Linked DNA regions of Homo sapiens. The protein of the gene in region 4 interacts with the protein of the main gene of each other region in a pairwise test. Each region holds a gene or a part of one and is shown on either strand. Other genes may lie near its edges.

The links. The genes of interacting proteins can lie anywhere in the genome.
Region 1: the proteins of USHBP1 (region 4) and STX11 interact in binary tests that used the Homo sapiens proteins (3 or more experiments, as listed by UniProt).
Region 2: the proteins of USHBP1 (region 4) and TRIM54 interact in binary tests that used the Homo sapiens proteins (3 or more experiments, as listed by UniProt).
Region 3: the proteins of USHBP1 (region 4) and FAM107A interact in binary tests that used the Homo sapiens proteins (3 or more experiments, as listed by UniProt).

What each region holds. Positions count from the first base shown.
Region 1 is NC_000006.12:144,181,517-144,185,016, reverse strand, and holds part of STX11 (syntaxin-11), read right to left. Parts: intron 1-3,500. UniProt on the Homo sapiens protein: SNARE that acts to regulate protein transport between late endosomes and the trans-Golgi network.
Region 2 is NC_000002.12:27,285,429-27,288,928, reverse strand, and holds part of TRIM54 (tripartite motif-containing protein 54), read right to left. Parts: intron 1-3,500. UniProt on the Homo sapiens protein: May bind and stabilize microtubules during myotubes formation.
Region 3 is NC_000003.12:58,567,392-58,570,891, forward strand, and holds part of FAM107A (actin-associated protein FAM107A), read right to left. Parts: exon of another isoform or gene 2,935-3,500; intron 2,475-2,934; coding exon of another isoform or gene 2,470-2,474; coding exon 2,300-2,469; intron 1-2,299. UniProt on the Homo sapiens protein: Stress-inducible actin-binding protein that plays a role in synaptic and cognitive functions by modulating actin filamentous (F-actin) dynamics. Mediates polymerization of globular actin to F-actin. Also binds to, stabilizes and bundles F-actin.
Region 4 is NC_000019.10:17,258,246-17,261,745, forward strand, and holds part of USHBP1 (harmonin-binding protein USHBP1), read right to left. Parts: intron 1,778-3,500; coding exon 1,652-1,777; intron 1,488-1,651; coding exon 1,351-1,487; intron 1,185-1,350; coding exon 1,044-1,184; intron 457-1,043; coding exon of another isoform or gene 351-456; exon of another isoform or gene 339-350; intron 228-338; exon of another isoform or gene 141-227; coding exon 1-140.

The sequences.
Region 1 (3,500 bases), on a different chromosome or scaffold from region 4:
AAAAGATCCACCCTGGACCAAAACTATGCCTTCACCTGGTCTGAATTTCTTGATATTCAACTGTTTCCTCACTTTGAACAAAATTGAAAGACAAACCACCAACTGGGGAGAAATTATAATATATGACAGACAAGAGGTTAAGATACTTAATATATATATTTCTAAGCTACCAAAAAATCTACTTACCCAAAGACAGTGAAGCAATTCAGAGAAGATGTAAATGACAGAGAACATAAACGTATGTTATATATGCCTGATATTTTCTAGGCATCTTTCATGTGATACCCTCTTTAGTCTTCATACAGATTCTATGAGTAGGTACTGCCATTATCAGAGTTGGTGTGAGCATAGGGAGATCAAGGAATTTACTCAAGGTCATCAGTAAGTGAACACTCAGGCGTTAGAATAGCACCACTTAACCAATGCACTAAATAATCTTTAGCAAAAGTATAAAAATATAGTCACAAAAGACTTCTGTATTAAACAAGGAAATGCAAATTAAACTGCTGAGAATTTTCTTGCCCATAAAGTTAGCAGGAATTTTTTAAAAACAATACTTTTTCAAATGGGTAAGGATTCTGGGAACTCTCAAAACATACTGGTAATTCCATCTCATGCCAGTCAGAATGGTGACTATTAAAATGTCAAGAAACAACAGATGCTGATGGTGGTTGTGAAGAAATAGGAATGCTTTTACACTGTTGGTGGGAATGTGAATTAGTTCAACCATTGTGGAAGACAGTGTGGCAATTCCTCAAAGATTTAGAACTGGAAACACCATTTGAGCCAGCGATCCCATTACTGGGTATATACCCAAAGGAATATAAATCATTCTATTATAAAGACACATGCATGTCAATGTTCACTGCAGCCCTATTCACAATAGCAAAGACACGGAACCAACCCAAATGCCCATCAATGTTAGACTGTACTATACAGCCATAAAGAGGAATGAGATCATGTTCTTTGCAGGGACATGGATGAAGCTGGAAGCCATTATCCTCAGCAAACTAATGCAGGAACAGAAAACCAAACACTGCATGTTCTCACTTATAAGTGGGAGGTGAACAATGAGAACACCTGGACACAGGGAGGGGAATAATGCACAGTGGGGCCTGTCGGGGAAGTGCGGGGGAGGGGAGAGCATTAGGGAAAAGAGCTGATGCATGCTGAGCTTAAAACCTAGGTGATGGGATGATCTGTGCAGCAAACCACCATGGCACATGTTTACCTCTGTAACAAACCTGCGCATCTTGCACGTGTACCCCGGAACTTAAAAACATAAAATAAGATAAAATAATAAAATCAGTATTATTGTTCAGGGTCTTGAGACCTCTCTCAGCTTCTGCTGAACTAAGCAAGTACATTAAATTTTTTTTCTAGATTAAAAAAAAGTCTAATTTAAAACTCCTGTGGTGTCTTTGTTTTTGCAACTTAATGATTTTGCAAACAAAGTCTATTCATTATTTTAAAAAATTGGTAATTGATAGAATCTTTCTGGAAGTCAGTTTAGTAATATGTATCAAAAGCTTTTCAAGTGTGCATTTGTTTTGACATATGTGCATTTATTCTAAAGATATAATGCAAAAGTGTATGAAACTCATTGCTCAAAATATTTTCATCACCACCTTGTTTTTGCAGAAATTCAGAAATAAGTTAAATGCACAATAATGAGGTCCTGGCTTCTACATAAGTCACAGAGTTTAGAAGGCTATCTAATGGCATGAAAAGCATATATACTCTGTTAGGCATAAAAAGTAGTTATGGAGAAAGAGAATGTGCAGCATTCTGAAACAGAAACTTGAGTAATACACATCAAAGTGTTAATTATAGTTTTCTTTGAGTTGTGGAATTATACATGGTTTAAATTGCTTCCTTTTGCTTTTCTGTATTTTCCAAAATTTTTATAATGTCCACACACATTTCATAATTTAAAAACCCCCATAAAACAATAAATACTATTCGTTTAAAGGACTAACTCCTTAGCAACTTTTAAAAGTCTATGCATGGCAATCAAGTTAACATTTTATGCTACCTGGGGAAAGCACATTAGCTAGTTTGCGTAGAGTTGAGCTGTACCCATCTGCTTAAGTTAGTACCCAATATAGTCTACCATGCAACAAGTGGATGAGATGGAATGGATGCATTTTGATGAACAAGGCAAGAATAGGTGAGAGATGCCTTCCTTCCTTACATGTTGGCCAAGCCTTACAAGGCACTTCAATGGAAGGAAATGGGTAGATAAGGGACTGTACCACGCCCTGGGACACTAGGGATCATTTGTATGTATCCTGCTTATCCTAGACAGGTCCTGTGCTCTGTATTGCTCTCCTACAGCCATTAAAAAGCTATTGGGGGAAATCATCTCATCACAATAAGAAGAGTCAAGTACAATTCAATCATATAGAAAATGGTTTTGGAAGATGTCCAGGGACAGTCATTCCTTCTCAAGATTGAACAACCATAAAGTCATAGATAGCAAATTATAAATCAGGTAAGGGCCCAAGCTCATGTGAAGGCGCAAGTCCATAATGTGCTAATAAGAGAAAAAGAAAGGGTACAGGAGACATAAAGATTCTCTATTGAGGTGTGGTAAAGGAGGGAAGGGGGCCTTCACCTGGCCTTCCTGCCCACCTCTCTTGGCTCAGCCAGCCTTGGATGAGTTGTCTCCACTGACATAGAAGGTCTCCTGGTCACCAGGGAGCAAACATTAGGAAAACTACAACAGAAAGTCAACGAAGAGACTGCTATTCCTAAGAATGTCTCCAAAAAGGTTAAAAGTGTATACACTACTGAAGTTATACAAAAATATAGAAGTGGGCACAAATAGAGAATCAAAATAACCTATATATCCCATAGCTTGATTCTGTACTATGAGTTCCTAGAAAGAGAACTATGGTAAATGAGAAAGAAAAATCAGACAATTCCACTGACCTTCCTGTCTTATTGTAATAAAAGATAATGTAATAAACTTTGGTAAATTGCATTCATCAAGTTGCTAAAAATAAGTCCTGCTTCAATTTGCATGGAGGTGAAGAATTCAAAAGAAAATTGACAACCAACTACCAAAAATCTGCTTCTGCTTTCTAATTTTCTTTTCAGGCATGCATATAATCTGTACTGAAAACCAGATCCAATAAGGAAGGAAGGGGGTATTGCTTAAGCCTTTTTTCATTGAGCAATAAAGTTTTGTGTAAGAGAAAACAAAGGAACAAAGAGATGATGGTAGCTCAGTGGTCCTCGGTCTGCAAGAGGTGACAGAATCTTCTGGAGAGCTTCAAAGATTACAGATGCCTGGGCACCTAGAGTTTCTGATTCGGTAGGCCTAGGATGATCTCCAGGTGATTATAATGCATACTCAAATTTGTGACCCATTCCATAGATACCTACCATGTCAGCTTTTTTTTTTTTTTTTTTTTTTTTTGAGGTGGTCTTGCTCTGTTGCCCAGGCTGGAGTGCAGTGGTACTATCTCGGCTCACTGTAACCTCTGCCTCCCGGG
Region 2 (3,500 bases), on a different chromosome or scaffold from region 4:
CATAAATGTCCTGTTCTTTCCTTAAATCTTACATTTATGCAAGGAAGCCAGCCCCATAAAGTAAAATTTCACGTGCCAATGATGTGATGTGTAGAGGAAATTCCATCACTCTAGGAAACATAACAGAACACCTAGATTTATGTCCTTAGTCTGTCCCTTTGTTTGTGTGACTGTGACCTGTTTCCTATGTTCTCTTCTGTAAAACGGAGATAACATCCATTCGATCTAACTCAAATGGAATCATGTTTGTGAATGTATTCTATAAATTATAAGGCACTGCACAAACACAGAGGACTGTTAACAATCCTAATCTAGACCTTAAAAAGAAATGACCACACAGAACCACAGGGTACGAAATGACTGTTCTTTCTCCACTGTGAAGGATAAGATGGAATGGAACAAATAAATGGAATTTAATTCTAGGCTATGTTCAAGGCTGTTGTGTGGAATATATGCCATGAGCTCTCTCTCTTTTAGGCTTTACGGTGCCTTCTATTTCCTTTGTAATGTTCCATAGCATCTAATAGAAATGTTCCATCTAGAAAGATGCTCTGTAAATGCAGCTAGTCTAGCAAATCCATACTTATGTCAGAATGTTTTCCCTCTTCCCTGGCTATCCAGAGAGGTGCTAATTTGGGACACAGGCTCTGGATGCAATGGGGCTTTTTGGAGGCTATTTCCCTCAACCTGAAGGCCTGGCCAGTGATGAATGATGGACCATCCAAGTTCTGTGAGCCAGACACTCAGAATATGCTGGAAAAACCTTGGGAAAACGGTGGGCAGAAGACCAGACATTTGGAGAAAAGCTGAAGCGCCTGAGAAGAATCCAGGTTTTGGTAAAAGCTGAGCTGCAGGTATAAGAGGGACTGTAAACAGAGGGCTAGCTATGGGCGGTAGAACCTAGGGAAGAGCTTGGCCCAAGGGGCTGGTAAACCAAGCCCTACTGCTTGAAAGGAGGAGTGATAAGCAGAAGAGTGGGCCAAATTAGGACACTGGTCACAGAATGGAAAGCCCTCAAAAAATGGAAATCCACAAAAATATTTTTCGACTTTGTGAAACCAAATCGTTAGAATTGCAAGAGATGTTAAAGGTCAGTTTAAGGCCAGGTGCAGTGGCTCACGCCTATAACCCCAGAGCTTTTGGAGGCTGAACTGAGAGGATCGCTTGAGGCCAGGAGTTTGAGACCAGCTTGGGCAACATAGTAAGACTTTGTCTGTACAAAAACATTTTTTTTTTAATTAGCTGAGTGTGGTGGTACATGCCTGTAATCCTAGCTACACGAAAGGCTGAGGCAGAAGGACTGTTTGAGCCCAGGAGTTCAAGGTTACAGTGGACTATGATCGTGCCACTGCACTCCAGCCTGGGTGACAGAGTGAGACCCTGTCTCTGGGAAAAAAAAAATCAGTTTAAAACACCCTTTTCGGTCAGGAACAGTGGCTCATGCCTGTAATCCTGGCATTTTGGGAGGCTGAGGTGGGAGGATCCTTTGAGTCCAGGAGTTGGAGAACAACCTGGGCAACATAGAGAGACCCTTGTCTCTACAAAAAATTACAAAAAAATTAGCCAGGCATAGTGGTGCACACCTGTGGTCCCAGCTACTCAGGGGGCTGAGGTAGGAGGGATGGCTAGAGGCTGGGAAGTCGAGGCTGCAGTGAGCCATCATCATGCCACTGCACTTAACCTGGGTGATAGAATGAGACCCTGTCTCAAAAATAAAGAAAGAAAGAAAACACCCTTTTCATTTATAGTTATGTAAACAGGCTTGAAGTGGTGAAATAGCCTGATATGCATTGTGTGGCAAATTAACAAAGAAACCCGTCAGAGGAGAATCCAGGAGTGCTAAGCCTTAGTCTAGGTTTTCGTTCTCACTAAATCAAGATCTTCCCTACAGAAGTAAGAGCCCTAACCCTGCTACAAATTTAATGCAATTCACAAAATTTTAGTGAACCAATTTTGCATCAGGGAGACCTGCCCAAAGTTGGACTGAAGAAATCCTGGTGCCTTCAGAATGGGTAGAAGTGGTTGAGGAGGCAGGCTGGGTAGGATCTTCTCTGGCAGGCCTGTACCTGATGACACCTGGTCCTAACAACTAAAGGATAAAGAAATGGAATTTGGGTGGCGCGAAACAAAAGTCATCTCTCTCAGACTGCCCCTTGTTAGAGAAGGAGGCTTCTTTCTTGACAATCCCCCCTCTGCAAGTCCCTCTGTAGACAGACCTCCTCCAGAAAAGCTGTTCCAGAACAACCTTCTTACAAGGCCTTTTGGTTGTCTGTTAAATTACAACAGGTTGCAGGCTCAAAAACAAGTGCCCACAGTGAAGTGGAGGCAGGTATAAAAATAAACTGAAGGCTTGCTTTAAAGCCGTTTAGGAGTGAATAGAATTTACAAATACAGAAACACATGGGAAGATGTTTGTGTCAAATTCCCACACCAACAGCTTTCCTTTAGTGGAAGTTCTTGGTAGCTGAGTGGGTGCAAGTGTGGGGAAAGAAGGAGGAAGAAATTAGAGGGGGTTAATGTGGTGTCTTGGTGTTTCATTCTGTTTCAATTCAGAGAGAAAGAGTTGTTACAGCTCTAAAAAGAATTACATTAAGATGGCCACTATGTAAAAATGTTTGCGGACATGGGCTTGAATGTAATATGCAAAAATTGCTGGGCTTGGTGGTGTGCACTCCAGAGGCTGAGGCAGGAAGATAACTTGAGCCCAGGAGTTCAAGATCAGTCTGGGTAACATAATGTGACACCATCTCAAAAAAAAAAAAATAATATGCAAAAATAAAAATAACTGTGTTGGGGAGGTAAGATTATGGATGATTTCCTCCCAACCCCTTAATACTGTTCAACTAACAGTATTTTCTTTTTTGTAGAGATGAGGTCTCACTATGTTGCCCAGGCTGGTCTTAAATTCCTGGGCTCAAGTGATCCTCCTGTCTCAGCCTCCCAAAGTGTTGGGATTACAGGCATGAGCCACCTTACGTAGCCAGTATTTTTAAATAAATTGTTTTCAAATTTTGCTTCCTGGCTGTCTAGTTAACTTGGTCTTATAAAATCACAATTCCCAAAAACTCTTGTTTGTTGTCCATCACGGCAGTTTTTAGGACAACAAAACACAGAAAACCATCTAAATGTTTTAGAGGACAGATTATTTAAATAGACTGTGGTCCAGTCATAACAATGAAAACTACACAGCTATTTAAAAACGAAGACATAAATCTGAATGGTGGATATGGAACAATCACCCACAGCGAGTAAGTGAACAAAGGCAGGTGGGGGGCGATGGGTCTCGCCTGAGAACACATATACATGCAAATGTGCCGATTTGTGGAAATTTTCTGGAAGTATTCCCAAGAAAGTTGGTAATAGTTACTTCTATCTGGTGAGACAACTGAGGGTCTGAGGTGAATAGCAGATTTGCTTTTCATGATATGAACTCCTATACTGCTTGAAAACAGTATGTTTACATGTTACAAATTCTAAGTGATATACTGGTATCACTTTGA
Region 3 (3,500 bases), on a different chromosome or scaffold from region 4:
GAGACCATCACCTTCCCGCTTCCCCCAGCCTCAGGGCTGCTTCCTGCGGTGACACCAACCCCCATTATTATCTTGTGCAATCCTCCCTGTAGCCTTGGAGGTGGACCCATTACTGTCCCATTTTACAGGGACAGAAACTGAGGCTCCTAGGGCTGAAGATACCAGTCCAAGACATAGCTACAGGTAGGCCACATGAGGATTTGAACCCAGGCCTGTTTGACTGCAGAGACCAAGTTTTATGTTATTTCTGGTTATTTTCTTAGGATACTTTCCTAAAGGTAGAATTGCTGGGTCAGGCTCTTTAAAAAGATTTGAGGTACATATATCTATCTGTGCCTGAGAAAGGTTATCCAGTGTATCCTCCTCTGAACAGTGTACAAGAGCATCTATTTCTCCCCACCATCACCAGCCAATCTTTTCATATTTGAGAATCTGGTAGGCCAGAAAGAATATCTGCTTTTCATTTGTTTCTTTATTAGTCACATGGAACAACATTTGATATGTTTACCAGCCATTTGCATTTCTTCTTTTGTGAATTAACTGTATTATCAATATTATTTTTACAGACAAGGACTTGCTCTGTTGCCCAGGCTGGAGTGCAGTGGTGCAATCATAGCTCACTGCAGCCTTGAACTCCTGGGATCAAGTGATCCTCCTGCCTCGGCCTCCCAAAGTGTTGGGATTACAGGTGTGAGCCACCATGTCTGGCTGTACTGTATTACTTTTTATTCATTTTTTCCTTGTCCATTGTAAGAGATCTGGGCCAGGCACAGTGGCTCACGCCTGTAATCCCAGCACTTTGGGAGGCCGAGGAGGGCGGATCACGAGGTCAGGAGACCGAGACCATCCTGGCTAACACAGTGAAACCCTGTCTCTACTAGAAATACAAAAGAATTAGCCGAGTGTGGTGGCGGGCACCTGTAGTCCCTGCTACTTGGGAGGCTGAGGCAGGAGAATGGCATGAACCTGGGAGGTGGAGCTTGCAGTGAGCTGAGGTCGCGCCACTGCACTCCAGCCTGGGCGACAGAGCGAGACTTCATCTCAAACAAAAAAAAAGAAAAAAAGAAAAAAAACAAGAGATCTGAATTTTTTTTTGTATATGTGAGTTTTAAAAATAAAATTTATTTATATTACAAATACTTTCTCTGATTTGTCTTTAAGCTTTTGTTTTTGATTGTGGTGATGTTTTTTGATATTAAAGGGACGAGTCTAAAAACCATTCAGAGAAAATGCTCATATTATAATACTAATTGAAAACAAAAACAAAAGCGACTCAGTGTACAAAATGATAACTGTTAGGATATTGGTCACACAACTGAAAACAAGAATAGAAATCACAACCGGCTCTAATACCAGAATCGGCCAGCAGAGGGCGCTCTGAAGGCACCGCTGCGTTCACGCTGTTACTGGTTAGCAGGAGTATTTCCCAGTCCTCCAAGGGGAGGCTCAGCCTTCCTCTTCTCCAATTCACATCCCATCAATTGCCCCATCCCACCCCTGCCACCTCCCAGATGCCCCTCTGGCTCGTCTCTGTCATTGCACACCACGGCCTTCCACGGAAAAGCCAGCCACCATCCTGGGCCTCTGTAACATTCCTGCCCACTTTGGTATTGTGAGCTCCCCCATCCCACCTCACCAGACGGGCCCACCACACCTTGTGCCCCTGCTGTAGACCTTTCCTTAGTCCATCCTTCTGCCCTGGCCTGCACCACGCAATCGATGCCCCAGGCACAGTGAGTGACTCCTGTTTCCTGTTCATTTACATATGAGGTTCCCTCTGCCATCCAGCACCCACCTCCGGCCTGGCTAACTCCAGTCCCCCTTCAGGTCATAGCTGAGGCAGCACCGCTCCTGTGAAGTCATTTTAGACCCCTCTCGGGTTCCTCCTCTGGGGTCTCAGGCCTATTTATGCCCTCATCAATGCACCCATCCTACTGCCTGGCTATGCACCCGTCCCTGTCTGTGAGGACAGGAACTGGGTCCCATTCATTCTTGTATCCCCAGGTCTGGGCTCAGTGCCCAGCACATAGTAGGTACTCAGTAAATGTATCTGGAGTGTGGGCATGAAATGGGTGGCTGGGCAAGAGAACAGGGCTTTTTGGTCCCTCTGGTTCCCAGGGACCCACTGGGGACAGGGTCTTTACAGGTTTTGCCGGTGATCATGTGGGGCACCTCAGCCTTCCTCAGTCTCCAGGAGCCCCAGGATGAAAGCCAGCTCTGCTTTCCTCCAGGGTCACCTTCCCCATCCCCCACAGGCCCAGGTGCTTGCGGGGCCCAGGCAGCAGGGCTTCATCCCTACCTTCTGTGGTTCATGAGCAGCTCCCGGTGGAGCTCCTGGTGACTCCGAGAGGCCTTCACGGGGTTCAGCAGCTTCTTGGGCTTGATGAGCTCCGGATTCCACTCTCTGTATTCTGGCCGGGCCATCAGGCCCCCAATGTCTGCCCGCTCCCTCTGGATCTCCGAGTACATGGCGGCTGTAGAGATGGGCAGAGGAGTAGCTCAGAGCTGAGCCTATAATCTCACCCTGCCCCATGGGACACAGTTGAAGGGCAAGGTTTTCATGTCAGATGGACCTTGGCCACCTGCTACTGCGCATACCTGGGCAAGCTACCTGACTTTCTGAGCCTTAGTTTCTTCACTTATAAAATGGAAATCATAACGGAACGCATGCACAGGGCTGTCAGAATTGGAGATGATGTTTGCGATGTGTCTGGAGTATAGAAGTAAAATGATAACGGGTCACAAAATACGGGTTGACACATGCATATTTTTGGCCTGGCTTTGCAACAGTTTTCGCCCACTATAAAAGGAATTATGTTTGAGTTTCTGTTTTTCAATGAGCTTGTAACAGAAAAGGAAAATATATTTAAAAAGAGTAACATGTACTTGTTAAAAACAATTTGGATAAATGCAGTGATAAAAAGAAAGTATTACCCTTATTGTCTAACTCTATCCACAGTTCCACAACTGTTCAGCTTTTCATTTTCTTCACATCAAAGAGGAGAGCATGAAATTCAGAGACTGCTGTGTCCCTAATAGCAAAGGGATAGTTGTCAAATGTTTGGCTACTCAATGGCCCCACTTCTACCACAGCGGTTTGAAATCTGTCAGTTTACTTAAAATTCAGACACAAGGGCTCCCTCTTCTACAAACTGGCTCCTTATCCTTGAAATGCCCAAAAGCAAATACAGCAGAGAGAGAGAGAGAGAGAGAGAGAGAGAGAGAGAGAGAGAGAGAGAGAGAGAAAGAGACTGACTTAAAAAAAAAAAGGCCTCAAAGGTATAGACACTGCCTGGCCATTAGCTGCTTATAGGAATTTCAGTGAAAATTTAGACTTTAGCTCTGCTCTCTTCATGAGTCTAGCTTTGCAGAGGTTGAGCTCCTATTATATGCCAGGCCCTGACAGTTGGCAGTGTCTGGTCTGGTATGCAGTAGGCGATCAATACACATTTGTTGGTAATTGCCAATGCAACTTTTGAAGTTTTCTTTGGTCTTGGGGA
Region 4 (3,500 bases):
TGGCAGCCTCCTCTTGTGCCAGCAGCCTCCATGCTTCCTTTTCAGCTGCTTGCAGGTCACTCATGGGGGCTTCGTCTCCTGCTCCTGAGTCGGCCTCCCGCAGAGCAAGCAGAACCCTGTATGCCTCTTCACAGTGTTCACTGTGGGACACTGGTTCTGAGTGCTTCAGGACACTCAGCTCGGCTGGGTGCAATGGCCCTCACCTGTAGTCCCAGCACTTTGGGAGGCTGAGGCGGGAGGATTACCTGAGGTCAGGAGTTCGAGACCAGCCTGACCAACATGGTGAAACCCCGTCTCTACTAAAAAGACAAAGATTAGCAAGGTGTGGTGGTACGCACCTGTAGTTCCAGCTACTCAGGAGGCTGAGGCAGGAGAATCACTTGAACTGGGGAGGCGGAGGTTGCAGTGAGCCAAGATGGCACCACTGCACTCCAGCCTGGGTGACAGAGCAAGACTCTGTCTCAAAAAAAAAAAAAAAAAGAAAGAAAAAAGAAAAAAAAATCCACTTAGCTACATCTTGCTCTATAGGTGCCAGTCCCCACTTGCTCCTGAACCCCTCTTCTCCCCACTGCCCTCAGCTCTGGAAGCATGCAGACTCCCTTAGCAACCCTGAACTAAAATTGCCTTAAGTTAATTTCTGGGCCAGGCAAGGTGGCTCACACCTGTAATCCCAGCACTTTAGGAGGCCCAGTAGGGGGGATCATGAGGTCAGGAGTTCGAGACTAGCCTGGCCAACATGGTGAAACCCATCTCTACTAAAAATACAAAAATTAGCTGGCTATGGTGGCATACACCTGTAATCCCAGCTACTCAGGAGGCTGAGACATGAGTATCATTTGAACCCAGGAGGCAGAGGTTGCAGTGAGCTGAGATCTCACCACTGCACTCCAGCCTGGGCAACACAGCGAGATTCTGTCTCAAAAAAAAAAATTAATTTCTGAAGTGGGGAAGGTGCTCTCCAGTGAGGGTTCTGTGGATTGGGGCCATCCTCAGAAAGCCCACTCCCTCCCCAGCTGGTGACATCACTGGCAGGGTGCACTGACCTGTACTGCAAGGCCAGATGCAATGCTGTGGCCTCAGCCTCCCGCTGGCCTAGCTGCATGCTGAGGCCTTCACAGCGGCCCTTGTATCCCTGTAGCACAGCTGATAGCAGACGATTAAAGCATTTGAGCTTCTCAATGCTCCTGTTCCCGAAGGTGGGGAAGAGGGAAAGTCAGAGGCCTTCTAAGGCAGTCAGGCCTCAATTTCCACCCTTTCCCTCCCTCCTGTTGCAGCTTCAGACTCCTGGCTTTATAACTCAGTTGGAGGAGGTGCCTGTGCCCTTATGAGCTCAGCATTTGAGTCTCTTACCCCCGGAGTTGCTCCATCTGGGCTTCCATGATGTGCATCTCAGGACTGAGGGGCTGGTTGGGAAGAGACCCAAGGATCTGGGTGCTGGAATGGCTGCGGAGGCGCCGAAGCAGGGGGTGAGCCAGGGAGAAGGAGTCCTGCCAAGAAGAAGTGATATAACTGACCCCAATTGTCACCAAGAGCCTGGGATTGTAGGCATTTTGCAACCCCAAAGCTGTTGGATCCCATGACAAAGATTTGAGTCTCATTCCCCTGAAGGCTAAGGACATCAAGACCATGGGATTGAACTTCTCGCACTCACCTGAGTCTCCCAGGGTTCCCTGTCTGCCTCAGAGCTGCTAGAACCACTGCCTGAGCCACCTGCTTGGTTGTGGGAAAGATGTGGGCAGGGCTCCAGCCTCAAGAGGGAATCCTGCAGCTCTTGAACCTGGGAAAGATGAGGGGGACGTCAGGCCTAGGGGCTCAAACCAACCACCAGCCCTCTCTCCCCAAGGCCTGTTCTTGGGGAAGTGGCAAGAACCCTAGCTGGAAGGCAAGAGGCTTGGATACTTAGCCTGCCAAAAATCTCACTATCTGACCTTGGGAATGTTTCTCAGCTGCTGAGGATTTTATTTTTCCCAGCAGAAAAATGGGCCCCACTCTGGGGAAAAATGAATCCCTGGACTGGGCTCCAAAGTTTTTCTACCAGCCTAAGATGAGGGCTTCCCTCTCAATATCTCATTCAGCCACATGGCTTTTTTATTTTTATTTTTGAGATGGAGTCTTGCTCTGTTACCTAGGCTGGAGTGCAGTGGCACAGTCTCAGCTCACTGCAACCTCTGCCTCCCGGATTCAAGTGATTCTCCTGCTTCAGCCTCCCGAGTAGCTGGGATTACAGGCATCTGCCACCATGCCTGACAAATATTTGTATTTTCAGTAGAGATGGGGTTTCACCATGTTGACCAGGCTGGTCTTGAACTCCTGACCTCAAGTGATCTTCCTGACTCAGCCTCCCAAAGTGCTGGGATTACAGGCATGAGACAATGCACCCAGCAGCCACATGGCTTTAAATGCCACCTGTGTGCTAAGGATGCTCAAGTTTCTCCCTTCTGCCCTGCTGTCTCCTCTGAGCCCTGGACTCAGACATATAGCTGCTCCCTTGAGGACCCCACGTGGATGTCTCATGGACACTTGAGCTTATCAAGGGCTAAAGAGATCTGGTCACCCCCAGCCAAACCTGCCTACCCTGTAGCTCCTCCATCTCTCCCTTCTAGTCCAGCAGGTCCCAAAGCCTGAAGTTGTCCTTGACTTCTCTCTAGCCTTCACGCTCACACGTCAGTTCCATCTGCCACATCACCCAGAATCCGTCCGCATCTCTCCACTTCTACAACCTCCACCATCGTGCATGTCTGGACCAATGAAGTCGCCTCCTGGCTCTCCAGGAGTCCACCCTCACCTCCGCCACCAGAGGGCGCCTGTGAACACCTGCGTCGAGCATGCCCCTCCTCTGCTCAAAACCCTCCAGGGCTCTCACCTTAATCCAAGCAAAGCCCAAGCGTCTCCTTGCAGCCCACGAGGCCCTACGCGATCTGCATTTGTTCTCCCTCTGTTCTGTTCTGGCTCCCCACACTCTCCCTGTTGCCCCCTGTGTTCCAGCCACACTGGCCTCCTTCGGGTTTCTTGAACAGGCCAGTCATGCTGCCACTCCAGGGCCTACTCCCACCACCCTCAGTTTTCTTTCTTTTTCTTTCTTTCTTTCTTTCTTTTTTTTTTTTTTTTGAGAAAGAGTTTTCTTCTGTCGCCCAGGCTGGAGTGCAATGGCGGGATCTCGGCTCACTGCAAGCTCCGCCTCCCGGGTTCACGCCATTCTCCTGCCTCAGCCTCCGGAGTAGCTGGGACTACAGGCACCCGCCACCACGCCGGCTAATTTTTTGTATTTTTAGTAGAGACGGGTTTTCACCGTGTTAGCCAGGATGGTCTCGATCTCCTGACCTCGTGATCTGTGCCTCGGCCTCCCAAAGTGCTGGGATTACAGGCGTGAGCCACCGTGCCCAGCATTATTATTATTTTTTTTTTTTTTTGAGACAGAGTCTCACTCCGTCACCCAGGCTGGAGTGCAGTGGTGAAATCTCGGCTCACTGCAACCTCCACCTCCTGGGATCAGGCGATTC